2 linked regions of the Homo sapiens genome follow. The protein of the gene in region 1 interacts with the protein of each later gene in a pairwise test. Each region holds a gene or a part of one and is shown in the gene's direction. Other genes may lie near its edges. The genes, in order: FUNDC1 and SLC25A46.

Region 1 (16,381 bases):
AAAAAAAAAGAAAAGAAAAAGAAAGTTACTTTCCTTGTAAAGGTTAAAGCAAAGGGGACTATTTGGGGATTTGGCTATTATCTCTCTCCTGATTTCTTGGAAGGTCAAAAGATTTCTTGGCTTTTTGGTGGTATGGAACTTCCACATGAGTGACTTTATTTTGCTTTGGTCTGTTGGTCCTAGTGCGGGAGTTCAGTCCAAACCAAAGGCCTCCTATAAATTTTATTCTATTTTCATTTATATTTATTTATTATTATTTTTTAAGACAAGTTCTCTCTCTGTCACCCAGGCTAAAGTGCAGTGGCACAATCAGATATCACTGCAGCCTCAACCTCCTGGGCTCAAGTGATCCTCCACCTCAGCCTCCTCGTGTAGCTGGGACTACAGGCACGTGCCACCATGCCCGCCTAATATTTTTATTTTTTGTAGAAATGGGGTCTCACTGTATTGCCCAGGCTGGTTTAGAATTCCTCAACTCAAGCAATCCCTCCACCCTGGCCTCCCAAAGTGCTAGGATTGCAGGCGTGAGCCACTGCACCGGCATATACATTTTATTTAACAGCATTTTAAGAGGAATATTTCTTAAAAAATTCTCTTCCTCATTTCTCCATAGCCATTTGATTCTAACTACCATATACTTGATAGGTAAGTGACTTCTTTCTGTAGTTGGCAGATATTGCTAGAAATATTGTAACCACCCAAGGGGTTCACCTTGCCCGCTGCCTACACAGAGCAAATTTATCAAGACAGGGAACTGCAGTAGAGAAAGAGTAATTCATGCAGAGCCAGCTGTGTGGGAGACTGGAGTTTTATTATTACTCAAATCAGTCTCCCTGAGCATTCAGGGAGCAGAGTTTTTTGTTGTTGTTGTTTTTTCTTTTTAGAGGAGTTTTGCTCTTTTTGCCCAGGCTGTAGTGCAATGGCGCAATCTCGGCTCACTGCAACCTCCGCCTCCCGGGTTCAAGGGATTCTCCTGCCTCAACCTCCCAAGTAGCTGGGATTACAGGTGCACACCACGACACCTGGCTAATTCTGTATTTTTAGTAGAGATGGGGTTTCACCATGATGGCCAGGCTGGTCTTGAACTCCTGACCTCAGGTGATCCACCCACCTCGGCCTCCCAAAGTGTTGGGATTGCAGGTGTGAGCCACCGTGTCCGGCCTGGGAAGCAGAGTTTTTAAGGATAACTTGGTGGGTAGGGGGGATGCCAGTGAGCCAGGAGTGCTGATTGGTCAGAGATTAAATCATAAGGAGTCAAAGTTGTCTTCTTGCACTGAATCAGTTCATGGGTGGGGGCCACAAGATCAAATGAGCCAGTGTATCAATCTGGGTGGTGCCAGCTGATCCATCAAGTGCAGGGTCTGCAAAATGTCTCTAGCACTGATTTTAGGAGTAGTTTATGGAGGGTCAGAATGTAGTAGCCTCCAGCTGCATGACTGCTAAACCATAATTTCTAATCTTGTGGCTAATGTTTGTCTACAAAGGCAATCTAGTCCCCAGGCAAAAAGGAGGTCTGCTTTGGGAAAGGGCTGTTATCATCTGTTTTTTGTTTTGTTTTGTTTTGTTTTGTTTTTTTTGAGGTGGAGTCTCACTCTGTCACCCAGGCTGGACTGCAGTGGCGTGATCTTGGCTGACTGCAACCTCCACCTGCCAGTTTCAGGCGATTCTCCTGCCTCAGCCTCCCAAGTAGCTGGGATTACAGGCGTGCACCAACATGCCTGGCTAATATATATATATATTTTTAATTTTTAGTAGAGACAGGGTTTCGCCATGTTGGCCAGGCTGGTCTCAAACTCTTGACCTCAAATGATCCGCCTGCCTTGGCCTCCAAAGTGCTGGGATTACAGGCGTGAGCCACCACACCTGGCTGTGGTCTTTAAACTATAAACTTAGTTTCTCCCAAAGTTAATTCAGCCTATGCCCAGGAATGAACAAGGACAGCTTGGAGGTTAGAAGCAAGATGGAGTCGGTTAAGTTAGATATCTTTCACTGTCTCCTCATAATTTTGCAAAGACGGTTTCAATATGTCAGTGTTATTTGGATGTCATTGGCCCTGTCAACCCTCCATTTTACTCTTCCAATTTATTGTTTTCCTTTCTCTTGTTTTTTTTTCCCTTTCTCTTCTTTCAGTGGCCCATCATTTGCTACTTCTCTATTTGTTAGCACCTCATTAAGAATGGGTTGGCAACGGGAAAGAAGGAGTGTACGAATTCAAATCTGTAATTTTTGGAAAAATATTTCAGAGAGGAGACTTGAAGCTATGTCCCGTAATGTCGTTTTGTTTTTGAAAAGTGGAGTCATACACAAAGTAACTGTCTTTTAAATAAACATTAACTTCTCTAGCCAGTCTTAGAATTGCATGTTGAGGGCTACAGGCTGAGGAACTTTGGGGAACCAACCCTTGTATCTAAAGTGCCAGGATTTTCTTAAATCATATTTGCCTTAATGGTTATTTCCTTGATTCACATCTTTTTTTTTTTTTTTTTTTTTTTTGAGACAGGGTCTCTCTGTAGCGTCAACCTCCTAGGTTTAAGCAATCCTCCCACCTCAGCTTCCCGAGTAGCTGGGACCACAAGTGTGCGACACCATGTCTGGCTAATTTTTTATATTTTATTTTTGAGATGGAGTCTCGCTCTGTCTCCCAGGCTGGAATGCAGTGGCATGATCTCGGCTCACTGCAACCTCTGCCCTCCTGGGCTCAAGAGATTATCCAGCCTCAGCCTCCTGAGTAGCTGTGACTACAGGTGTGTGCCACCGTGTCTGTCTAATTTTTTAATTTTTAGTAGAGACCGGGTTTCACCACGTTGGCCAGGCCCATTTCGAACTCCTGATCTCAGGTTATCTGCCCACCTCGGCCTCCCAAAGTGCTGGCAGTACAGGCATGAGCCACTGTGCCCAGCCAATTTTTTTTTTTTTTGTTTTGTAGAAACGGGGGTCTCCCTATGTTGCCCAGGCTGGTCTCAAAGTCCTGGGCTTAAGTGATCCTCCTGTCTCAGCCTCCCAAAGTGGGATTACAGGCCTGAGCCACCACACCCAGCTGCTGATTCATACTTTAAAAAATCCGTGTCACACATGAGAATTAAATTCTGATTTTTTTATCTTGCCCAAATTGCTATCTAAGGGGTCTGGGGAGTCATGCCCTACAAATCATAAATTCTCATCAGATGGGTTTTATTTAACCCTATACATTGTGACTTACTTTCCAAACTGACTCTGGCCTAACATTACAAGACAAAGAAGAAAATCAAATGTTTTACCCCAAAATGTTTCTTTGCCATATTTTGAAATGGCCTACAAAGCTGTTCTTTGTGGGGGAAAATTTGCATCTGTAAAGAATCTATATTAACATAGCTAGATATTTTTCTTCCAAACCCTCCTAATCCTAAAGAAATTAACTAAAATCTGAATAGGAAACATTTGTCATCTATTGTTTCTAAGGGCAGCCACTATAAGACTTCATAAGACTTCAAAAGAACTTTGGTCTCCACAGTCTTTATCTTAACCTGAACATTCCCTTTCTATGAATCCCAGGTCTTTAGATAAACTCAACCAATTCTCAATCAGAAAATGTTTAAGTTCACCTACAGCCTGGAAGCCCCCGTTTTGAGTTGTCCTGCCTTTCTGGACCAAACCAATGTATTTCTTTTTTTCTTTTTTTTTTTTGAGATGGAGTCTCTCTCTGTCACCCAGGCTGGAGTGCAGTGGCACAATCTCAGCTTGCTGCAACCTCCACCTCCCAGGTTCAAGTGATTCTCCTGCCTCAGCCTCCCAAGTAGCTGGGACCACAGGCATGTGCCACCACGGTTAGCTAAGTTTTGTATTTTTAGTAGAGACGAGGTTTCACCATGTTGGCCTCCCAAAGTGCTGGGATTACAGGCCTGAGTCACCATGCCGGGCCTCCAGTGTATTTCTTAAATGTATTTGATTGATGTCTCATGCCTCTCTAAAATGTATAAAACCAAGCTGCATCCTGACCACCTGGGGCCCATGTTCTCAGGACCTCCCGAGGGCTGTGTCATAGGCCATGGTCACTTATATTTGGCTAAGAATAAAGCTCTTCAAATATTTTACAGAGTTTGACTCTTTTCGTTGACAAACATAAATATGCAGTAAGTCCTCACTTAACTTTCAAAATAGACCTATGATTTCTATTTAGCGAATTGAGAGTAAATCTTATAGAACTATATAGTCAATTTAACAATTTTTCACCAACGTCCTGAAATAATCACTTTAATCACTTTCAAGGTCTGATTTAAAATCTTGAATAAGGCATATTCCTTGGTCCCATTCTCAATTTAGGTGTGAGTTTGAAGAGGCACAGGGTGAGTATAGGTTTGGTTACACTAATGTTTTAAAAATTTTATATAGTCATTAGTCACTATGTCTGGATAAAATGTTGTTTCTTGGGATCAGCAACACAATGAACTTAATTGCCTAAGAATGAACACATTATTTCAGTGTGTCTGTATTCATTAGACCACCCTATTAATGTCCAAAGTTTCCAATATCCTCACTTTTGAGATACTTCAGTCTCTCATTTATTATTATTATTATTATTATTGAGATGGAGTCTTGCTCTGTCTCACCCAGGCTGGAATGCAGTGGCGTGATTTCGGCTCACTGCAGCCTTCGCCTCCTGAGTTCAAGCAATTCTCCTGTCTCAGCCTCCTGAGTAGCTGGGGCTACAGGCGTGCGCCACCATACCCGGCTAATTTTTGTATTTTTTTTAGTAGAGACGGGGTTTCACCATGTTGGCCAGGCTGGTCTCGAACTCCTGACATCAAGTGGTCCTCCCGCCTCGGCCTCCCAAAGTGCTGGGATTACAGGCATGAGTCACCAAGCCCAGCTCTCATTTATTATTATTATTATTATTTTCAAGATGGAGTTTTGCTCTTGTCACCCAGGCTGGAGTGCAATGGTGTGATCTCGGCTCACTGCAACCTCCGCCTCCCGGGTTCAAGTGATTCTCCTGCTTCAGCCTCCCGAGTAGTTGGGATTATAGGTGCCCACCACCACACCCAGCTAATTTTTTGTATTTTTAGTAGAGACGGGGTTTCTCCAAGTTGGTCAGGCCGGTCTCAAACTCCCGGCCTCAGGTGATCCACCTGCCTCGGCCTCCCAAAGTGCTGGGATTACAGGAGTGAGCCACGGTGCCCAGCCCAATCTCTCATCTTAATTGTGTTCTTTTTTGGCTATGTGTTTAGACAGTTTGTGGTCCTCTCCTCCATCCTCTTCCCTCAACTGTAAAAAGTAAAATAGAGGTTCCTCTTCAAAGACGTTCCTCCCGGTCTAATTAGGAATAAATGGTAACTTCTTTTAAAAGCAAAATTTATTCAAAGACCTGTGCTAACATTCTTAAATATCTGCTAGCCATAATAAAGGAATCAATGTATTTTATCTTCTTATCTCCTACAATTTAGCCTCAATATTTGCCCTGGCATGCTTATACTGGTCCAAGCAAGCATTAGGTCATAGCTTGTTCCTCTTCCTTATTTAAAAGTGTTTTTATCTTTCTCAGCATTCCACAAGTTACTTCCTCTTTCCTTTGTTCTCCTCTACCTTTGCCTCTTTTAAAAACTTCCAAGTTGCTAGCCAATCAAGACAAATACAGAATGTGAGGTCCCGTTCCAGCCAGTGGAAACCGGACACAGCAGTAAGGTAGACGCGTCAGGTTATAAATGACCCTGTGTCCTTTGTTCAGTGTACTCTTGTGGCAAAACTGCTAGCGAGTGTTCCCTTTCTGCAAAAAGTAAAAATGGCCTTACTAAATAAATTAAATTTATGTTCAAGTGCTATTTCTTTATGGCACCGGAGAACAAGCATTTCAAACACAACCTTGCAAACCACCTCCATGAACATTAATTTAAATAAAGTGATTGCCAGGATTGTCCACATGCTTTTGCTATCTCTACACAGTGAAATTATACTGGGTCGTAGCAAAAGAGAATTTGATTTTCCAATCAGTTTTAAATTAAAATAAAACATAATTGAAGCTAACAGGCTAATTAGTTGCAGAGATATGGTAAGAAATAAAGGGAGACAAGTTACTCAATAGTTACTAGAAATTAGTATCATAATACAAATGATAATGAAGGTAAGCCATTCAATTTATAGGGATTTTACATGCTTAGGAAAATTCCTTTCCCAGTCAACAAATGACAAAACATAAACTTGCAAGCTATGTGTTAAGTTGGTGCAAAAGTAATTGTGGTTTGCTATTAAAAGTAATTAATAAATAAGAATATTAATAAATGGGCATATTGTAAAAAGAAATAATAAAGTGCCAGGATTTGAAAAGCCAAGTGCATCTATGCAAGCCAATTTTTAAAGTAATGCAATTTATGCCAGAATTCCTTGTTTTTCCATTAAAATGAATACTGAGAGGACTTTTGTTTAATTGTACAGCAGATGCGGGTGCAACGCAAGTTCAAGACAAGTTTCTGGGTTGGTTTATGTGGACTTGGGTTAGCTGCTTGGTGATCAATATGGCTTTGTATTCATAGAATCCCATGGGGTTTCTGGGTGAAGACCTTGACCTTGTTCCTCTGTCAGATTTAAATAATAAGAATGATGCTGGCCGGGTACGGTGGCTCACCCCTGTGATCCCAGCACTTTGGGAGGCCCAGGTGGGTGGATCACTGAGATCAGGAGTTCGAGACCAGCCTGGGCAACATGGTGAAACCCCCTCTCTACTAAAAATACAAAAATTAGCCGGGCGTGGTGGCACGTGCCTGTAATCCCAGCTCCTTGGGATGTTGGGAGGCTGAGGCAGGAGAATCACTTGAATTCGGGAGGTGGAGGTTGCAGTGAGCCGAGATTGTGCCATTGCACTCCAGCCTGGGCAACAGAGCGAGATTCCATCTCAAACAAACAAACAAAAGAATGACACTAAAAAATTATGTCCTCTTGCCAGGTCAGGAATTACGAGGTTTCTAGGCCTTTCTTTACCTCCTTTGGATTCCTGGCAGGAACTCAAGAGAGAGAGCAGGTAAACAGATTCCAACTTCTAGCAGCAGGGCATTAGAAAACTTGTGGTCCCTTTGTGAGCGCTTGCGCCCTTAGAAAAGTATGGCTTGAAACAGGGTTTCTCTTATCTTTTACAAGCCTTTTTCCTCAAGCATTTGAATTCTGGTAATGTTCAAAATACTGTTAAAAAATTATTCTGACAGTATGCAAGTGATGGGCCTGACAAAAAAATTATGGGACACTTCTTAAAATGGTAAGGAAGACTTTGTTCATGACTACTGCAATAGGTATCACAACTATTGCAATACAGCCTGGCATGGTGGCTCACATCTGTAATCCCAGCACTTTGGGAGGCAGAGGCAGGAAGACTGCTTGAGCCCAGAAGTTTAAGAGCAGCCTGGGCAACACAGGGAGACCTACTCTCCACAAAAAATAAAAATAAATTAGCCGGGAGTGGTGATGCACGCCTGGAGTCCTGGGTACTCTGGAGGCTGAGGTGGGCCGATCTCTTGGGCCCAGGAGTTTGAGGCTGCAGTGAGCCATGATAGCGCCACTGCACTCCAGCCTGGTGACAGAGCAATACCTTTTCTCATAAAACAAAGACTATGGCAATAGGGGTGAGTGATGGGTCTCAACTCTGAATACAGCAGGGAATTTATAGTAAATGATCAGAGTGAATGGATCAATGGGTGGAAGATTACCAAGAGTAGACATGAAGGGTAGGGGTATTCTTGCTAAAGCCAATTTAACAGGATTTTTGCTGGTGGCAGAGTGATCAGATATCAAGAGTGGGGTTGAGGAATTCGATCGGATATTGAGGGTGATTCGATATTAAGGGTGGGGGAGTTCTTACTAAACTGACTTAACTGCATTCTTACCACAAATGGACTAGGCAGGTCAAAGACGACCCAAGGAGGAGACCCAGTCAAAAACAGCTCAGAGGAGCCTCCTGACTAAAGTTTGGTCAAGGAGAGAGTCTTTGTCAATACCCAGCTGGTTCTCCCTTTGTACCACCATGTGGCGCCCTTCACCCCATTCCTTCAGCCCTTAAGGCTCTTTTAAAACAAAATAATCAAATTCAAGTTACGGAAATTCTAGGAGGGGCGGTCCCTCCCCCTTCCTAGTTGCGGAAGGCAACGGACTACAAGTCCCCTACGCTCTCGCGGGGCTATGATCCGCCCGGCCCTCCCCACATTCCGGAGTTTCGCGCCTGCGCAGAAGGCAGAAGGTCCTGCGCTGAGAGAAGGGGGCGGAGACAGGACTACGCGCCTGGAGTAGGAGAAGGAGGAAAAAAGAGACCATAGACTTCCATCCTGGCCTAGAGCGGCCCTTAAAGTGCCAGGGAGAGGAGGGCGGGTGGGGACCACTCCAGAATTGGCCGCTGGCGGTATCATGGCGACCCGGAACCCCCCTCCCCAAGGTGAGCGGCCAGGGCCCGAAGTGGTATCTGGGACGCGGCTCACAGCTCTCGACCTTGCTCCTATGGCACCTCTTCCTTCCCCTGCCCTAGGATTCTTCGAGCTCCATTTTTTTTTTAAGGCAGCCCCTTCGAGCACCCCCTCCGAGCTAGACTTTTTCCTCCCCTCTCTGCGGAACTCAAGCGGAGAGCCACCCCCACCCCCAGCACAGCCCTACCTGCCTCCTGCCTTACCTTCACCTCCGGCCCTTCATCTCCCATCTTCAAATGTATTATTTTCTTTTTTTAAACGTCTGGACTCAAGTGATTTCGCTGAGCTCCAGACTAGTTCTCTCAGGAGGACCCCTCCCCACCCCCATTCCTCCCACTGATGAAAATGGACCCTGCTCTGACCTTGACCCTACTAAGGTTTGGAGGTGGGGGTGACCCCTCACTACTGTGTCATTCTGAGTTGGCCCTGGCTTCGTGACCCCAGGCTGGTCCCCGGGCCTTTGGGAAAGCAGATGGGGGTCATTGTTGCAGGGTCCTTTACTCTTGAGGCCCTGGTCTCAAGAATTGAGTTAAATAAAGTCAGTAGTTTCTATGTGGGCATTTTTAGCTGTAGGCCAGAACTAATGAGTTGTAACAGATTTTTAAAAAGATGTATAGAACATTTCTGACTTTTGATTGACTCTACATTTATTTTTTGCATTTTGCTATTTTGAAGACTATGAAAGTGATGACGACTCTTATGAAGTGTTGGATTTAACTGAGTATGCAAGAAGACACCAGTGGTGGAATCGAGTGTTTGGCCACAGTTCGGGACCTATGGTAGAAAAATACTCAGTAGCTACCCAGATTGTAATGGGTGGCGTTACTGGCTGGTGAGAACAACGTCTTTTTCATTAAATTTCATTTGGGGGCCTGACACTGCTGTCCTTTCATACATGGGCAAGAATCACCGTGCACAGGCAGTAGGTCTACACTGTTAATTCCAGAAGAGGCTTTTCTCTGAGTTAAAATTGATGTAATCTACATTCCCAGGCTCCCTGTTGAGTTTTGGCGATCCCCTCCCCCATGCCCACCACTGTTCCTCTTCTCCCTCCTCATCCTTCTTTTGATTCTTTATATAATTTCCCCATTCTCATGTTCAGCAAATGTCGTGGATCTGATTCAGTGATAGTAGATAGGAAGAAATATATGAGTTAATTATATGTAAATTTTTACATTTCATTCAGTGCTAACTGCTGAAAAAACCTAAGAAACTCCCACGGTAGAACTGGCCTCTAGTATTGTCAGCCCTGTACAGAGCAGTGTAAAATGCTCAGTATGAATTATTGGTGATGATACAGATGATTCTGTTTTTTGTGGGCTCGTTCAGATTATGATAACTCTTTGAAAAAGAGCTGTAGAACGTTAATTCTGTGTTTAAAGGTCTGATTGCTTACTTGATAATATTGTGGAGTCCATTAAGAAGTAGTTAATAACCATCAGCCTGACCAGTTAACATTTCAGACCACGTGATAACACAATGGCTACTGTGGATCTAATTCTGTTCTTATAATAAAAAAACTAGCCAGATAACAAGGGGCAGAAACAAATTTGACTGTTTTGAAAATGTTCGTGACTGTAGAGAAATTTTGGAGTTAGTGAGGGTACTTAACTTGTGCATAAGCGTTTTTTCTTAGATTCTTATTTAAATTCATCTTACATAGATTTAATTGAAATATTTACCTGTTTCCACTTGATAAGTATAACGATGAGTTTTTTGATTTGTGTTTTACATGCACCTTGGAATAATGACCCACTCTTCTATGCCTTTTTTTTTGCAAATGCCATTTTATGATAGAAGTACTCATTGTGAAGATTCTGTGGTGCAGAGGTGCGGCATTTATTCATGATATGTACTTACTAGTGCTGCTGCAGGAAAAAAGCCTGCAATTAGAAGAGAGATGCCTGTCAGGGCCTGGTCATTCAGATAATTCTCCACAGGCTGATAGTTCCTCTAGCCCTGTAATTCAGGGTATGGCTCTGCTTAAATAAGCTCACAATTTGGTTCCATGGGTGATTGGTTAATGTCAGTCAGGGCCTAAAGCCCAGTCTTAAAACAGACTCAAAAATAATTGAGAATAGAATTATCAAGTCATTTCATTGTTTCTCCTTGGAGACCAGACTCCTTGTAGATGAAGCCCCATCATTGGCAGAAGTTTGCTCGGAAAGCCTAGAGACAGAGCAGCAGGAGATAGGTTCATTTTAGTGACTGATGCCATCAAGCAATGGATACACATGCTTGTGGAACACAGTCCAAGGGACATTGTGGCTGCTGCCTGCCTTTTCTGTTCCCTTTTCTGAGCCTTTGTTGCTGACATATATGTATATATACATACACACACACACACACACACACACACACAACACACACATTTGGATTACAGCCAGGTGTTGGTCCAGGAGCTGTATAATACAACTCTAATAATTATACAGGCGATTTGTTGCAATGACTATATTCAGTGTAGTAAATTTTTGCAATTTTCTTAGGATGTAAAACTGATGTGATATTATGGTGTATATTAAGGAGGAACAGTTAATAGGCACTAACCTAACAAGTTAGCAATTTAGACCAATTCAAGACATGTATAGGAGGCTGAGGAGATTTTATTTTGCTGTAGGTAGCTGTAGGCTTTTGATCATGACAAAAAATTAAAACTATTAGGATGGGTCCTTGCTAGGAGAGATGGGAGGTGTTGAGACCAGTTAGAGGGCCCTTAAAGTGTTCTGGAAGCAAGGTAATGATGACCTTGAGAGTGGAAAGGAGAAGACAGTCAAATAATGTTTTGGAGATAAAATATATAGAACTGTGGAGGCCAGGTGCGGTGGCTTACACTGGTAATCCCAGCACTTTGGGAGGCCGAGGCGGGTGGATCACCAGAGGTCAGGAGTTCAAGACTAGCCTGGCCAACATTGTGAAACCCCGTCTCTACTAAAAATACAACAATTAGCTGGGTGTGGTGGCGGGCATCTGTAATCCCAGCTATTCAGGAGGCTGAGGCAGGAGAATTGCTTGAACCCGGGAGGCGGAGGTTGCAGTGGGCTGAGATGGCACCAGTGCATTCCAACCTGGGTGACAGAGCGAGCTCCATCTAAAAAATAAATTAATTAATTAAATTAAATAACAGAAATTTATTCTCTCACAGTTCTGGAGGCTAGAAGTCTGAAATCAGGATGTCAACAGGGTTTGTTCCTTCTTGGAGGCTCAGAGGGAGAAATCTGTTTTATGTTTCTCTGCTAGCTTCTGGTGGTTGCCAGCAATCCTTGTCATTCCTTGGCTTGTAGACGTATTACTCCAGTCTCTGCCTCTGTTGTCCTCACATGTCGTCTTCCCTCTGTGTGCGTCCTTATCGGATTAAAGGCCCACCCTGTCCAGTATGATCTCATCTGAACTTATTACATCTGCAGTGACTCTGTTTTCAAATAAGGTCACATTTAGAGGTTTTGGGAAGGATATGAATTTTGAGGGGGACACCATTCAACCCAGTGCAGAAGGCTAGAGTTAGAAATATAGGATTCATTTGCACAGTGTGGATCTGGAATGCTGAAGGGAATGTGAGCTCACTGAAGGAGCGAATTAATGACAAAAGAAGTATGAGCTGACACAGGGTAGATGAGACACAAAAAACATTTAATATAAAAATAGGTAGATATAGATAAGGAGGCCTTTAGAAATGTGGGCTGAAGTATAGTTATTGAGTGGAACAACAGCTGGACCTGAAAGGGTAGGAATGGTAGGAAAGCTTTAGATAGGTAGAGCTAGGAAGAAACCCCTAGAAGCAGGGAGATTAATAGCTTGAGCAAAGGTGATGACCTATTTGGAGGTTAATGGGGTTGGAGCCGAAGGTGGGGGTCAACCAGGTGTATGGACCATCTTGACTGTATTAAGCAAAACATCACTTTTATTACGGGAGGTTTCAGCTTATACAAATGTAGGAGGAATATAATGAACCCCTGAGTACTTGTCGTTATTTTAGTAGCTGCTCTTTTTTTTCTATAAATTCTCCTCCTCTTCTCTCCGTCCCTTATTTTGAAGCAAATTTCAGACATTTTAGATTGTGCATTTTTGACTAGCCTGTATAACTGAGGGGTTTCTGAGAAGGTTTCTGAGCAGGTAAGGGATGTGATCAAAAGAAATGCAAAGACATAAGATTTTATTAGGAAAGCAATGAAAAGTAGAAGAGGGAGAGGGTTTAGTACATAATTGATTGTTTTCATCTTTTGTTATTTGATTAAAGGTGTGCAGGATTTCTGTTCCAGAAAGTTGGAAAACTTGCAGCAACTGCAGTAGGTGGTGGCTTTCTTCTTCTTCAGGTATGTCAGAGCTTTAAGCACTTGCCTTTGCTTTCATAGAAGGTGGAATTTTTCTTTTAGGCATCAGTTTATGGAAGAGCTACAATGAGTTTTGGAAGCTGACTTTTGTCTTGAAAGATAACAATTTAAATACTTCTGAGTTATTAAGCATAGTTTGATCCCAGCTATTAAAAAGACAGCCATTACCGAGCGCATTGGCTCACGCCTGTAATCCCAGCACTTTGGGAGGCAGAGGCAGGCAGATCCCTTGAGGTCAGATGTTCAAGACCAGCCTGGCCAACATGGTGAAATCCCGTCTCTACTGAAAATACAAAAATTAGCTGCCATGGTGGTGCACGCCTGTAGTAGTCCCAGCTACTTGGGAGGCTGAGACAGGAGAATTGCTTGAACCCAGGAAGCGGAGGTTGCAGTGAGCCGAGATCGTGCCATTGCACTCCCGCCTGGGCAACAAGAGCAAAACTCTGTCTCCAAACAAAACAAAACAAAACAAAAATCCATAATCTTATATCTGAGGCAGATAGATTTGAAGTTTTAGTTTTGTTCATATTCTTGTAAGTATAAGATCTAAAAATGCTTTGCCATTAGAGGATGTTTATCAGGGCATCATCTGGCATTCATGTCTGTTTGGCATGTATTTTTTCAAAAATATCATTCCTTGAAGATCAAATATAGTAAATCCAAAAATTGAAAATCTCTACGAATGAATGTGAGCAGCACTTTTAAAGATACAGAGAACTGTCACTTGTACTAGATTTTAAAAATGATTGATGTTCATAGCCACCAGAATCTGAATTCAGCACCTAAGCCATCGATCATGTAATAACTAGTGTAGTTGTAGTACAAGGGGACTAGATTTGTATGTATGAAGCACAGATTTTGAGTTGTTCACTAAACAGCCTTTTAAAAATATATATGTTTTCTTTCTTTTGGTGACATTATTACGAATAATTGCTTATTACTTGTGGTAAGAGGTAAAAAAAATGATTAATACCTAAATTTAGTTCTTTGGATGAATATGCCAGCATTAGTACAGATGATAATTTTACTTAAGCTGATTTTGACTTGGTTTTATATGGAATCAAGAGCATATTTTATTCCATAGCTATTTTGAAGACTCAGTTGTCATTTCTGTTAGTGTAAAAGGGTACTGGACTGAAGCAGAGTTTCCTAAAATGTTCACAGAATGGAGAGAAGTGTATATTTTAATCCACTCTGCATGTCAGTTTTTCAGAAGTCCATTTCAGTTCACTCAATATGCACCATTCAAATCCACATTTTGTCATTGCCACCTCCCACTTTTCCGCATTTAGTACACGTAGTCTTTGAAGTTTTTAAGGCAGAGCAACATAGGACCTATCTGCATCAAACCAGTTTTTCCCACAAATACGACTAACCTTGAAAACTCAGTAGAAGGAAAGTGAAAGGGGAAATAAAGTAACAAATGGCTTTTAGGCTAATTGCCTAATATTCTTTAGGCCCACTTTCATATTTTTATGACCTTTCTTATATTTAAAGGTAAATATTAGTTTATTTAGAACTTAAAGCTTTTCTAGTAACAATATCAAGTGTTTTCCAATAGATATTTATTACACTGCCATCTTAAAGTACACAGTCTCTTCGTTTTAATTTTTTGGAGTTATACATCCTTATAATTCAAAGGGCCAAGTACTTGTGCAAGGCTTGTTACAGATTAGAGTAATCCTCCACCTCTCTCACTACCCCCATTTTTCCATCCCTTGAGACATCCAGTTTGCACTCTTAACTGATTCTTAAGGTAGTAATCTCTTTTTCCCTAAACAAGTTAATTGGACATTTCTTGATCTTTCAGTTTTAGGTGTGAACTATTGGCTTCCCATTATGGAATGGGAAAATTTAGCTGTCATTTATTGACCTGTTTTGTTTTCCCTATACTTCCCCAAATCTCACATACCTGAATGCTTTCTTCCCTCTCCCTCAATCGTCTGAGTGTAGTTACTTCCCTTTTTTCATAATTGTGTTAGATCATTCATTATATGGAGTTCACTGAGATTGATTACTTGGAGTTCACTGAACTTCTTGAGCCTGTGAATTTATGTCTTTAATCATGTTTGGGAAGGTTTTGGCCATTATTTCTACTAGGAAGTTTGGGATTTTTTTTTTTTTTTTTTCGAGACAGAGTCTCGCTCTGTCGCCCAGGCTAGAGTGCAGTGGCGCAATCTTGGCTCACTGCAACTTCCACCTCCCGGATTCAAGTGATTTTCCTGCCTCAGCCTCCCAAGTAGCTGGGATTATAGACTACAGCTGCCTGCCACAGCACCCCGCTAATTTTTGTATTTTTAGTAGAGATGGGGTTTCACCATCTTGGCCAGGCTGGTCTAGAACTCTTGACCTATTGATCCACCCGCCTCGGCCTCCCAAAGTGCTGGGATTACAGGATTACAGGCGTGAGCCACCACGGGCGGCCGGGATTATTTCTTTTCTTCTTCTTTTTTTTTTTTTTTAGACAAGAGTTTTGCTCATGTTGCCTAGGTTGGAGTGCAATGGCACAATCTCGGCTCACTGCAACCTCCGCCTCCTGGGTTCAAGCGATTCTCTTTCCTCAGCCTCCGAAGTAGCTGGGATTACAGGCACCTGCCACCATGCCTGGCTAATTTTTGTATTTTTAGTAGAGATGGGGTTTCACCATGTTGGCCAGGCTGGTCTCGAACTCCTGACCTCAGGCGATCCACCCGCCTTGGCCTCCCAAAGTGCTGGGATTACAGGCGTGAGCCACCGCGCCCAGCCAGGATTCTTTCTTTTTTTTTTTTTTTTTTTTTTTGAGACAGAGTCTTGCTCTGTCACCCAGGCTGGAGTGCAGTGGTGCGATCTCAGCTCACTGCAAGCTCCGCCTCCCAGGGTCACGCCACTCTCCTGCCTCGGCCTCTCAAGTAGCTGGGACAACAGGCGCCCGCCACCAAGCCCGGCTAACTTTTTTGTATTTTTTTGGTAGAGACAGGGTTTTGCTCTGTTAGCCAGGATGATCTCGATCTCCTGACCTCATGATCTGCCCGCCTCGGCCTCCCAAAGTTCTGGGATTACAGGTGTGAGCCACCGCACCTGGCCCAGTATTATTTCTTTAGACAACTACTAGTTGTGTAAATCACCTTTCATTGTCGTATGTATCAAATAGTTCATCAGTTTAACCGTCTGGGCAAACTTGGTCCCAGAGTCATCTGTCCTGTTTGCTTTCTAGGCCTGGTATACGGCTCTCACCCTGGGATCTCTCTTCAATACCTTCTGGATATTCCCTTTTTGTTTTGGGTTGTTTCTTGTATGTTATGTCTTTTGTTTGTTTGTTTGTTTTTTGAGACAGTCTTGCTCTGTTGCCCAGGCTAGAGTGCAGTGGTACAATCTCACTCACTACAAACTCTGCCTCCTGGGCTCAAGGGATCCTCCTGCCTCAGCCTCCCAAGTAGCTGGGATTACAGGCGTGTGCCACATGCCCGCTAATTTTTGTATTTTTGTATAATAGGGAGGTCTTGCTATGTTGCCCAGGCTGGTCTCGAACTCCTGGGCTCAAGCATTCCACCCGCCTTGGCCTCCCAAAGTGTTGGGATTACAGGTGTAAGCCACTGCACCTGGCCTATCCTATGTCTTGATGTATTCTCTTGTTTTGGTGGACACATCCTCCAATAGCTT
Region 2 (11,474 bases), on another chromosome or scaffold:
AATGTCACGGGGTTGGACAGTCTAGGTAATAAAAGAAGTGTCTTATGTTTGGAATATTGGGTATGTATGAAATTGAATATCAGGAAAAGAAGCTGAGGTGCTACATTAAAATACGATTGTGCCTTTTTAAGTTTATTCTCTATGGGTTTGGAATGTGTTTCTTTTTTTAATATATAGATGTTCTGATCAAGATATATTCAAATGGCAGTATAAAATAAATGGAGTTGTATAGACAGATTTATGGAGATCTATTGTAATAATCTAGGCGAGGCTGAGAAGGTTCTGAACTGTGGAACAGAACAGAAAGGGATGAGCTGGCTAGACATTTCTGAAGTATAGTCGATGGTCATTATGTTAGCTTGGTAATTGGAGATAGGAGAGAATGAGTTGTCAGTAGTGACTGAGATTTCTAGATTGGAAAATGTTAACCAAGATGGAGAATTCAAGAAGAAGAAAAAGTTGGAGTAGGGAAGAAGATAAAGAATTTATCTTTCAATAAATGAAGTTTGAGATTCTTGCAAGACATTGAGGGAGAGGGACATGTCTCATATTTGGTTGGAACCATGGATCAGAGTAAAAAAAAAAAAATAGAAAATTGAAGCACAGGGAGAGCTTTGGGTATTGTGGCATAAAAGTAGCAGCTGAAGCTTAGGATAGATGAAATCACCTAAGGAGAAAGCATAGATTAAATGAATAAAATGGACCAAGGACAGAATCCTAGGCATACATGTGTGCCGTGTGTGTGTGGGAGCGGTGGGAAGGGGGGTAGTTGGGGGAGATAATGAGAGAAATTAGAGAGGGCCTCAGACAAATTGGAAATAGCATAAGATGTAGGACAATCATGTTCTAGAAACCAAAAATGGGAGAATTAGAAGTGTAGATACATTTGAGAGAGAGGGTAGAGAAATTAGGGAAATTTGCTTTTGGGTCTCTCTTTTCTCTGTGAAGCAGGATACAGGGTTATTTGGTGAAAAAATGATAAGCATTGGGGTTGTAGTAGAAAAGCATGAGAGGAATGATACACATTTGGGACAGTCACAATGATGGGTAACAAAGGAATCTTACAAAGAGTATATGAAAGGAATGTTAATAGGTAATATTGGAAATTAGAAATTTTTAAGGTGCTATTTGGCATTACTCTGATTTTCTATATCAGCACTATATTTTTGTATATCATCCTATCGATAATGTTAAAGGCTTTGGAATGGTTTGTTAATCCAAATTTATTCTCTGGCAAGGTGAATTTTTTGCATTGTTAAAGAAGTGAGATAGTTGAAGGCATAGCTACTAGTGTAACGCATATGCCCAATGTTGGGATTTAGTCCTTACAGGGAAGGAAATGAAAGCAAGAGAAACTGATAGTAAGCTTTTTTCCAATGTGATTGCTTTTGAAGGACCTCGTAGTCTTGAAGTGCCTTAAATAAACTTTGCTAAAACGTTTGAAACAAAACAAAGATTAGAAAGGTCAGCAACATTTGGGCAGCTCAGAGTTTCTTGTTTTATTCTTTAAAAATCTGTATTTCGTTGTTTGGCTAACTATTCACTTTATTGCTTTTATATCACTAGATAAGATCCCAAGTTAGTACTTATAGTCAAATATTCTTGAAATTCTTTAACAAACAATTCTGTAAAAAAATAACAAAATGCAGGAAATTCCATTTGGTAGAGTGAAAAAAATTCAATGCAGTTGTTCCTCATATCTGTAGGGGATTGATTCCAGGACCCCCAGTGGATACCAAAATCCAGAGATGCTTAAGTCCCTTTTATAAAATGGTGTTGTATTTGCATACAACCTGTACATAACCTCCTGTATACTTTAAATCATTTCTTGATTCCTTGTAATACCAAATACAATGTAAATGCTATGTAAATAGTTGTTATTCTATATTGTTTAGGGAATAATGACAAGAAAGAAAAAAACTCTGTACACATTCAGTACAGATGCAACTATCCCTTTTTTAAATAAATATTGTAAATCCGTAGTTGCCTGAATCCATGTATGTGGAACCCATGGATATGGAGGGTTGACTATATTTGCAACCAGAACACTATTGGTTCAGGTCCTGGCTATTCCACTTTTTATTTCTGGGACCTTATGCAAGTAATGTTGCCTCTCTAAAGCAGAGATGAAGGAATAACATTAATTTCAGGCTACAGGGAAGAAAAAAGAAAAATAGGAATGGGAAGGCATAGGACTTTATAAAATTTTATCATCTAACTTTCTTACTCAGTAGACAGACATGTCAACTGAGTGGGAATATATTTTCATCATTTTGAATCTTTCCAAAGAAGACAAAATAGTAACCTCTATTGCATTGTTCTACTTGGATAATTTTGGTGATAAGGCCCACTCATTAATTCATTCATTTACTTGGCTAACATTTCCTGAGTACTTACTATGTGCCAGGTTCTGTGCTAAAAACCGGGTTTACAGTGAGGAAAATAAACAAAAGGTAACTGTTGCCAGGAAGCTCAGAATCTAATAAAAGTACATTCACTAAGAACAATAATTCCATTAATGAATAATTGCAAATTGAAATTTGTTTTCTGAAGCAAAAGAATATAGTTCCATGAAAGTATTAAAGGGCTAGAAACAGTGTCCCTAGTAACATGACACTTAAGGTAGATCAGAGTGGTAATTAGGAGGTACATACCAGTTTGTACAAAAATGCTGTTGCAGTGGGGAGCCTAGAGAATTCAGGTGTAACTGAGAGAAGCCTCACATGGCTGGAGCTCTGGCCAAGGGTAAGGGTACAGAGCAGGTGGGAGCCAGAACATGTGTGGCCCTGTAGGCCATTTTAAGAATATTGAAGAGGTTCAGTAAGGTCAGTGACATCAGATTTGTTTTCAAAGGGTCATTGTAACTGTAGATGAAAAGGTTGTATGAGGACCAAAGTGAATAAAAGGAGACATCTTAGTATTCTATTACAATAATAAAGGTAAGAAAAGATAGTGGCTAAGATCAGGGTGGTATCTTTTGAGATAGAGGTAAGTGGACAGTTTTGAAATATACTTAGGTCAAACTGAGGGAATTTGGTGATGCTTTAGGAATGGTAGATCAAAGAGAAGGCAGTATGAAGAATGACTTCTTGTATTTGGGCTTGTGTAACTAGTTGTCAAATGAAGCTGTTTTTTTGAAGTATAGTGTGAATATCTTTTAAAAAATTATTTATTCTTCTTTGGGCAGATTTGACCTTTCCTATTAATGGGAAGAAGGCAGAGTTTGTTTCTGTATCCTATTAATGGGAAGAAGGAGCAAACAAGGTCACAAAACATTAACAGCAGTTCACAGAAGCTACTACATGAGGAGGATGAGCTCTGAGGTCTCCTAGCCTGGGGTTTTTTAATTGCGTAACATTTACTAGGTAGAACAGGGGAGATAGTACAGATTTGCCAATATTTAGGGGTTTTTAAATACAGTTTATGATCAAATCAAAGAGAAAAACAGCAGATCTCTAGTGTTCATTAAGTCAGCAAATTTATAATTTCTCAGTAGTATTACTTTTTAACAAATTATATATTAGCCAGGATCGTCATGTGTGATCTCTTTAGCAGTAGATACTGCTAAACCCTTCCCTGTTCTCTCTCCCAGTTGCAGTGAGTTAAACCATGTGTCGTTCTACCCCCACAGTACCCTTTACTTAATTTACATGTGGCTTTTTTCAGACTGTTAACGCGAGGTAGGAGTTCCTGTAACCAAGGCTACCTGTGTGGTTCAGTCTCTCACAAAACCCATTTGGTTCAACTCCAACTTAGTTTTGACTCATCACACATCTGTGGTTATACCACTGTAAACATCTTGTAGTTTTCCTCCAACGGTTCCCTCCGAATTTGCTTATTTTAAACACACGTTATTTTAAACACAATGAAATCTTCCTCAAATTCAATAGATTTCCTTTCTGATTAATAGTTCCTGAGTAGGGAACACTGAAAGAGTTTAAGTAGAAAAGAAAGATTTTAAGTTGGACTTTAGTACAAGTGCATTTTCAGATCTTTTATCATATCCAGATGGAGTTGTCTGTAGGCACATGATATGGGGCTGGCATATAAAGAATTCTTAACTGAAGGTAAATTAATTTGGGAGATTTTGAAGCTCTAACCCTAGATATGAGCGTCGCTAGGGAAGAAGGATACACTATGGTAGAAGAATAGAGTCTGAACCTTAGGAACTCCAACCAAGGGGTGGCTGGGTTAAGAAAGGTGGTCTTGAAAAGGAGTCAGGAGAGACCAGAAGGCAGGATAAAAACCAACAGAATGGGCTAGTGGAGCACAGGGGCAAAGAGTGCTTCAAGGAGAGAAGAGGCTCTGATGGCTGCTGAAATGTCAAATAAGGTAGAGACTTAAAAATGTCCATCAGATTTAATGACATGCAGATTATTGGAGACTTTGGTAAGAGCTGTTTTTGTTCAAAACCAATTTGAAGTGGGTTCAGAGGTGAGTGGGAAAGTACAGACGTGGAAACAGAAAGTTTAGATGGTTGGCTCTGACTAGGATTGATGAAGAGAGGTAACTGGAAGATGAGGGGTTTAGAGTAGGTTGGGGTAAGTTTTTTTTTTTTTTTTTTAATTAGGATAGCTATTTGACCATTTGAAAATTAAAGACTGCTGAGACAGAGTTATTTTAGAATTTTATTGCCTTTTTTGTGTTGATTATGCATAGGAGTATGTGTTTTGATTTGTTAAATGAAAAACTAGACTGTTTTGAGAAAAGCAAGGTACTCGAATAAATTTTATTAATTTTTTCGTTCATTAGGGAGGGCATTTTTTGCTTGGAAATAGATAATTTAGATATATTTACATGTTTGGTATTTGATAATGAATTATAAAAAGGTTTAGTGACTGAAGCTTTTAAGTATGCTTATTTAAATTTCTAGAGCTGTAACAGTAAATTTTACCCATTTTATAAAGTAGTAGAGAACAGATACAAAGAAGAGTCCCAAAAGCATTTTTTTAAATACTTGGTTTTAAGTCTCCTTTTATCTTAATGATCTTAAGAATTGGCAGTAGTCATCAAAGGGGAGGTAACTCAGAATTGACATTGTATTTAAAGGGGAGGCTACCCAGTCCTAAGTGTTTACCACAGTTTCATACTTAAAATTGGTGTCGTCATAAACTGTGGTAATACTTTGTGAGGCCATGAGTATTAGCTGTGCCAAGATGATTTACAAAGCATGTAACGTATTTTGTTTTATAATCATAAAGTAACTTTCAGTAAGATGGGAGGCCTAATCTATTTTTTATATTTTTCGACTTAATCATTGAATAATATGATTTCAGCTACATTGTGTTGTTCAGGCCAAATAAATATCCTAATAGTAATTTAATCAGAGTTCGGCCCAGAAGGTGCTCTAAGGTCTTAGAAATCGGGGGTAGTTGCTCTATTGTCTGAAAGTCTCTGATGTATGTATATGCTGTTGTTTTTCAAATTCAGTCATGTGAAATAGAAAATGTTTATCTAGATTCCTGCTGTAGCCATAGCCATGATGGAATGAGTACCCATTCCATCAGAGAAACTGTTGGTAGCAAGTCTTATCTTTATTTTGCACTTCCCTTTCTGTTTTTTTTTTCTCTTTTTCTTTTCATTTTTCTTCTATCTCCCCTGCCTTTTCATTTTTTTCTTCTTATTTACTTTCTTTTTTTTTCTTTTCTTTTTTTTTTACCCTCTATAATCTTGACTCTTTTTGGACTTTTCTCTTGATAGAACTTACTCCCTTTTTTCACCTTTGGTTCTATTTCATTTCAGCTTGCCTCCCTCCCTCCCTTCCTTCTTTCTTTCTTTTTTTTTTCTTCCTTCCTTTTTTTTCTTTCTTTTCTTGTTTTCCAAAGGTAACCAAACTAGCAGACAGAATGCACAAAATCCTACACCTTGGTTCCAGACCTGGCATTTTTGCCTGTTTCCTTTGAACATTTTCCTGTGATCTTTTTGACCCTGATTTTTCTCATCAGTAAGACAAGTGTGACAATATCTGCTCTGCTTATCTCACAAGGTTCTTCTTTGTATCAAATAAGATGAGAGGCAGTACAGGCAGAGAGTACCGGGGTTTAGAACAGAGTTCCACACTAACTGGTTACTTGGCTTTGGATGAGTTATTAATCCCCTCTGATCCTATCTCCTCATCTATGAAATGGAGAAAATAGGGTTATTATGAAGATTAGAAATAGTTCATGCAAAGCACTTTGCATAGTCATGGCATTTAGTAGGTGCTCACAAAGATAATAGAATATAATGGTCACAAAATTATGTAATTGTACTAAGTAAAGATAATTCAGAAATTAGGTACTACATAAATGTAATGTGTCAGCCTGCATTAGAGTTACTTAACTTTTTTAAAAAATTGTCATTCTTATATACTTTGTAAAGCCTTTTTTAATCCTGTTCTTTGTTTCCATATCTATTCTCTTTCTTTTAACCAATCATCTTAATTTTCTTCCTTTAATTTCTCATGTTTACTTTCATAATCAGTTGTGCCTCTTGCTTCTCTGCCAGCCCCTTCTATCAGCACGTATGAAAACACCTTGTATTTTTTTCTCTCAAACCATCACAGTTGTTTACACTGTGTTCTAGAAAAGAAAATGTTCACCATTAGAATATATTTCTCCTACAGATTGAAAAAAATTAGAAGTTGATTACTGTTTTGAAAATTGGGCTAATTCCAGATGTTTTAAATAACATGGCTTTTGTTTTATTTAAGTTTATTTTTATGTTTTAGGGAGGTTTTACATAAATGGAGTCCTAAACAAATAGGAGAACACCTTCTACTGAAATCGTAAGTATCAAAAAATGGCATTTTTATTGGGCATTTTCACTAATTTTTATAGTATTAGAACTGGAAACAAATCTTATTAAATAACTGTAGAGAAGGAAATTAGAGCAGTGAAATGTTGGTGGGACTATAACTTCAAAGGACAAAGTAACACAGAGTTTAGGAATAAATCCTGAAATATATATTATCTTTAAAATAAATTCCTAATTTGAAAGGCTAGAATCACAGACTAATTTTGTGTATGTTTTCTTAGGAAGTTAGCATAGGTCTTCAATTTATTTAACCCAGATTTTCAAAGAAAGTATAACTATTTTATTGTTAATCAGAGATGCAAATGTATTTGTATGGTGATAAGCAAACCCAAAAAACCTTAGTGACATTGAAATGTAGTCCTGAAGGCACTTAGTGATTTTACAACGGTAACCATTTTTGTAGATTAGAATTTTATTCTTCACTTTTTAATTTTTTTTTTTGAAGATTGTGAATTGGAAATCCCCCAGCTTGCTGGCTCCCTCAGTGGGACATTCCAGCACATTATTACTTAGTGATGTTCCATTCACCTTGAAAACCACTACTTGCCAGGACCTGGCCCATAAGGGTTAGGTAAGTCCCACCTTGATATTATTTTGAATAACTATATTTTGCAGGCTTGCAAAGTTGTAATATTACTATGTCTAAATATTGGTGATAGGAAACAACTTTGCAAAGCTGTATAATGTTTTTTTTTTTTTTTAATAATAAAAGGGACTTCACTCACCATTGAAGACTGGCCTAACTCTGCTGGATGGGAAATCTGGGAATTGATATAAGAGGATAGTAACAGAAAAGTTACTTGCTCAAATATCACTAAAAAGGCAAACTATGGAATGGATCCCTCATCCTCAATTTTAAGTTTTAGATTTATAGGCTGCATTAGCTATGTGTAGGTAGATGTCCAATCTATTTTCTTTGCAGGCTGTCCTTGTTTTATCATTTGATTTTTTCATCTCTGTTGAATAAAGCATCCTACGTTACAGATTTCTGAAGTTAATATTTTTAGGCTGTAGGTATTAATAGTTGAAAACCTTAAAAAGATTATTCTAGCTTGACTATAAATTATGTTGACATATTAAAGCAGATATTAAAAAATTTAGTATAAGCATCTTGTTTCAGTATACTGATAAATTTGTTTTAATTTCTATAGCCTAACTTACGTGGTGGCAATGCCTTTTTATTCAGCAAGTCTGATTGAAACAGTGCAGGTGAGCTTTTTTTTACTGTCATTTTTTTTTTATTTAAGAATAGTTTTTTGACTATTCAGTATATTGTAGATATCTAACATTTCAGCAGAAAATTTTAAGACTATGTCTTAAAATATTTATTTTATAAATATCACAGTTATATCGCACGTTGCTTGTCTGTATATTTCCATTGGTATCTTAAGTCACACTTCTAGTTTTAATTATTTTTGTCCTTTCCATAGGCAACTATACTCTTCATTTAGACATCTCAGAACACAGCCTATAACTTGCTCTGAAAACAAAGAATCTATAAACTTTTTAAGGCCCTTACATACAACTCAGATGGTTATGGCTTATCATTGGACAGTAAATTAATAATTACCTGAGAATAAACATGATGGATAATCATCCGAACAGGAAGCAGGTTGTCCCCACAGGTAGTTTACTGACAGGATTCTTTTAAAACATGCCTTTAAGTGACATTTGATACTATTGGGTGTGGTAAATACTACAAAGCTGAAGCAATTTTCTGCTAGCACTTGAAATTCTGTTTGCTTGTGTTACTATTCCTAACCACATGGTGGCGCTTCAAGTACATTTAATTAAATGTCTTACCCTCCTTCCTACACTTAAAACTGTAAGATGAAGGTAGTTTTTACTTCACCTGTATACAAAATCCAACTATTTGTACACCTGTCTTCTATTTCCACATCAGATCCTCTAGCATATTCTTTTCTCTAGTATATGTGAGTGCCCTCTCTGTAAAAACTCGCACTGGATCAGCCTTTGCTCTTCTAATTACTCTTTTCTACCTTGTTTCTTTTCTGGCTGTATCATTCATCTTTGATTTATGATTATTATTATTATTATTTCTGTTAGAACTAACTTCAGTTAACTGAAGTTAGTGTCTTGCGACCCAAATCATACTTTCCCTTCCCCTTGCATTTGGCATTGTGTTAAATAAATGATGAATTTTTGTATGGTGCTATAGAATTTACAGAGTTGTCACTTGTATGAGATAGCCTCATTTTAAAGGTAAGGGAAAAATGTCAGGAAGGTAATTATTTAAGGAAAAACAACTAAGCAGAATGATTTATTGGGGAAAACAATTTTTAGCTTGAGACAGACCCATTATCACATTTCTCTGCTTAAATTAGACCTGGGACTTTAGACAGATTTCTTAACCTTTATAATTTTCTTATCCATAAATTGTGAATAGTATTTTAATAACTGACGTGTAACATTGAATGAGTTATTTATATAAGTGCCCGGCTCACTATGTGATAGGGTTTTTTCTGTGTATGTGTTTTTTTTAACCCAGTATTTACTCCTTGTTTCCTGCTTCAAGTTCCACTTGCTAACTCCTTTTGATCTCTTTTGTCTGCTTTTCTAGAACTCTTTTTTCTTTAGATTTCTCTCTCTTGAACATCTTTTTTCAATAATGCCTTTGCCATCTCTTGTCTTATACCTTAAGGCCCAATCCTTGACCCTCTGTTTTTTATCCTATACTCATTATTCTGAAAGAGCTAATTTATTCACAGGAATCATTAGCTCTAATCTCATGTGAGTTAAATCTTCAGACTCAACTTTTAAAAACAATCTCATCTGTCCCTCTAAAAATTAGCTTCCTTTAGAACCTCTTCTCCTTGGCAATATATTAGTGATACTATTGTTATCTTCACACTAAAGATTCAAAACTTTAGTTTTTGTTTTAGGAAAGTTTTTTATTTTTACATTTCTTTCATCCTTCATAATTACCCAGTCATCATGAACTTTGTAGTTATCTATTTCTTCATTAAGAATCCTTGAGGCCTAGGTGGGCGGATCATGAGGTCAGGAGTTCGAGACCAGCCTGGCCAACAGTGAAATCCCATCTCTACTAAAAATACAAAAATTAGCCGGGTGTGGTAGTGGGCGCCTGTTGTCCCAGCTATTCAGGAGGCTGAGATGGAAGAATCGCTTGAACCCGGGAGGCAGAGGTTGCAGTGAGCTGAGATCACGCCACTGTACTCCAGCCTCGGTGACAGAGTAAGACTCTGTCTTAAAAAAAATAAAAAAGAAAGAAAGAAAGAAATCCTTGTACTAGTCTCCACATTTTAAAAGTCAATACTCATACAAGATTGTTTTCAAGTTGCAATACTTATATATATCCTTTTACTGATTAAGGATTCATATTGACTCATATTCCCTAAAATCAACTTCAGACTTCTTATTATAGTTTTAAACCAAGGTTTTAATTACATCACTTTACCTTTCAGATTTGCAGATTATCTTAACTGCTAAACTTTTAAAAAAAATGTATCAATTGTTTATTGAGTACTTGCCTATATCAGGTACTGTTATAGACCCTGGGGATACAACAGCAAACAAAACCAAAATGCTCTGTTCTCATAGCACTTATATTCTTATGGGGAAAGTAGACATAAACAACTAAATAAAAGGTATATTTCATGGCGATTAACTGCTAAAGAAAGCAAAAATAAAGCAAGGAAGGCAAATAGGATGTGTAATGGGTAGGGAGGGGCGGTTAATATTTTTTTAAGAAGATAAGTAAAGGTCTCACTGAGAAGGTGACATTTGTGTAAAGATCAACATGCATATTTGGGAGAATATTCTAAGTAGAGGGAAGGCAAGTGCAAATGCCCTTACATGGGACTGTGTCATGTGTGTTGTATCATACATGCTTGAGAAGTAGGAAGGATGCCGATGTGGCTGGTGCTAACTAAGCACAAAATAAGCAAATGTTGAATTGTATTTAGAGGGAAAGCAGGTGCAAAAACTCTCAAGTGGGACTGTGTCATGTGTGTTGTATCACACATGCTTAAGAAGTAGAAAGGAAGCTGTTATGGTTGGTGCTAAGTAAGCAAGGGGGGAATACAGGAGATGAGGCCTGAGTGGTAAGAGGGGACCAGATTACATAGGACATTGTAAATCATTGTAATAATTGGGCTTTTGTTTGAGAAGGATGGAAAGTCTTTGATAGGTTTGAGCAGAGCGGTGGTGTGATCTGACTTACATCTTTATTAGGATCTCTTTGACTGTTGCATTAAAAATAAACTGGAGTGGGAAGGATGTCAGGGTCAGAAGTAGGAAGATGGATTAGAAGGCTAGGCAAGCTCACTGTCATCTCATAGTTTTAAATATCATCTATTTACTAAAGACTCCCACATTTATAATACAGTGCTCCTCCACTCACGATGGGATTACATCCCAATAAACCTGTCATAAATTCGAAAAATCTTAGGTTGAGACATCGTAAGTTGGAAACCATCTGTAGGTCCATTGTGTACCTTTTTCTGTAATTTCTATTGTGAACTCCATTTGGAGTTAATTTACTTAACATTTCTGAACTCTTGATCTTCACCAAATTGCTACTCTGGCAATTTTTCATCTCAATAAAAGGCAGTGCTATTCCCCCAGTTCCTCTGGACAGCAACCTTGGGGTTATCCTTGACCCTTCTCTTGCATACCCCAAATGCAATTCACCAGTA

Evidence for each region.
Region 2: the proteins of FUNDC1 (region 1) and SLC25A46 interact in binary tests that used the Homo sapiens proteins (3 or more experiments, as listed by UniProt).

The regions. Positions count from the first base shown.
Region 1 is NC_000023.11:44,534,810-44,551,190, reverse strand, and holds the start of FUNDC1 (FUN14 domain-containing protein 1), read left to right. Parts: upstream 1-8,331; 5' UTR 8,332-8,358; coding exon 8,359-8,386; intron 8,387-9,089; coding exon 9,090-9,246; intron 9,247-12,648; coding exon 12,649-12,724; intron 12,725-16,381. UniProt on the Homo sapiens protein: Integral mitochondrial outer-membrane protein that mediates the formation of mitochondria-associated endoplasmic reticulum membranes (MAMs).
Region 2 is NC_000005.10:110,748,756-110,760,229, forward strand, and holds part of SLC25A46 (mitochondrial outer membrane protein SLC25A46), read left to right. Parts: intron 1-6,709; coding exon 6,710-6,766; intron 6,767-7,240; exon of another isoform or gene 7,241-7,366; intron 7,367-7,946; coding exon 7,947-8,004; intron 8,005-11,474. UniProt on the Homo sapiens protein: Transmembrane protein of the mitochondrial outer membrane that controls mitochondrial organization.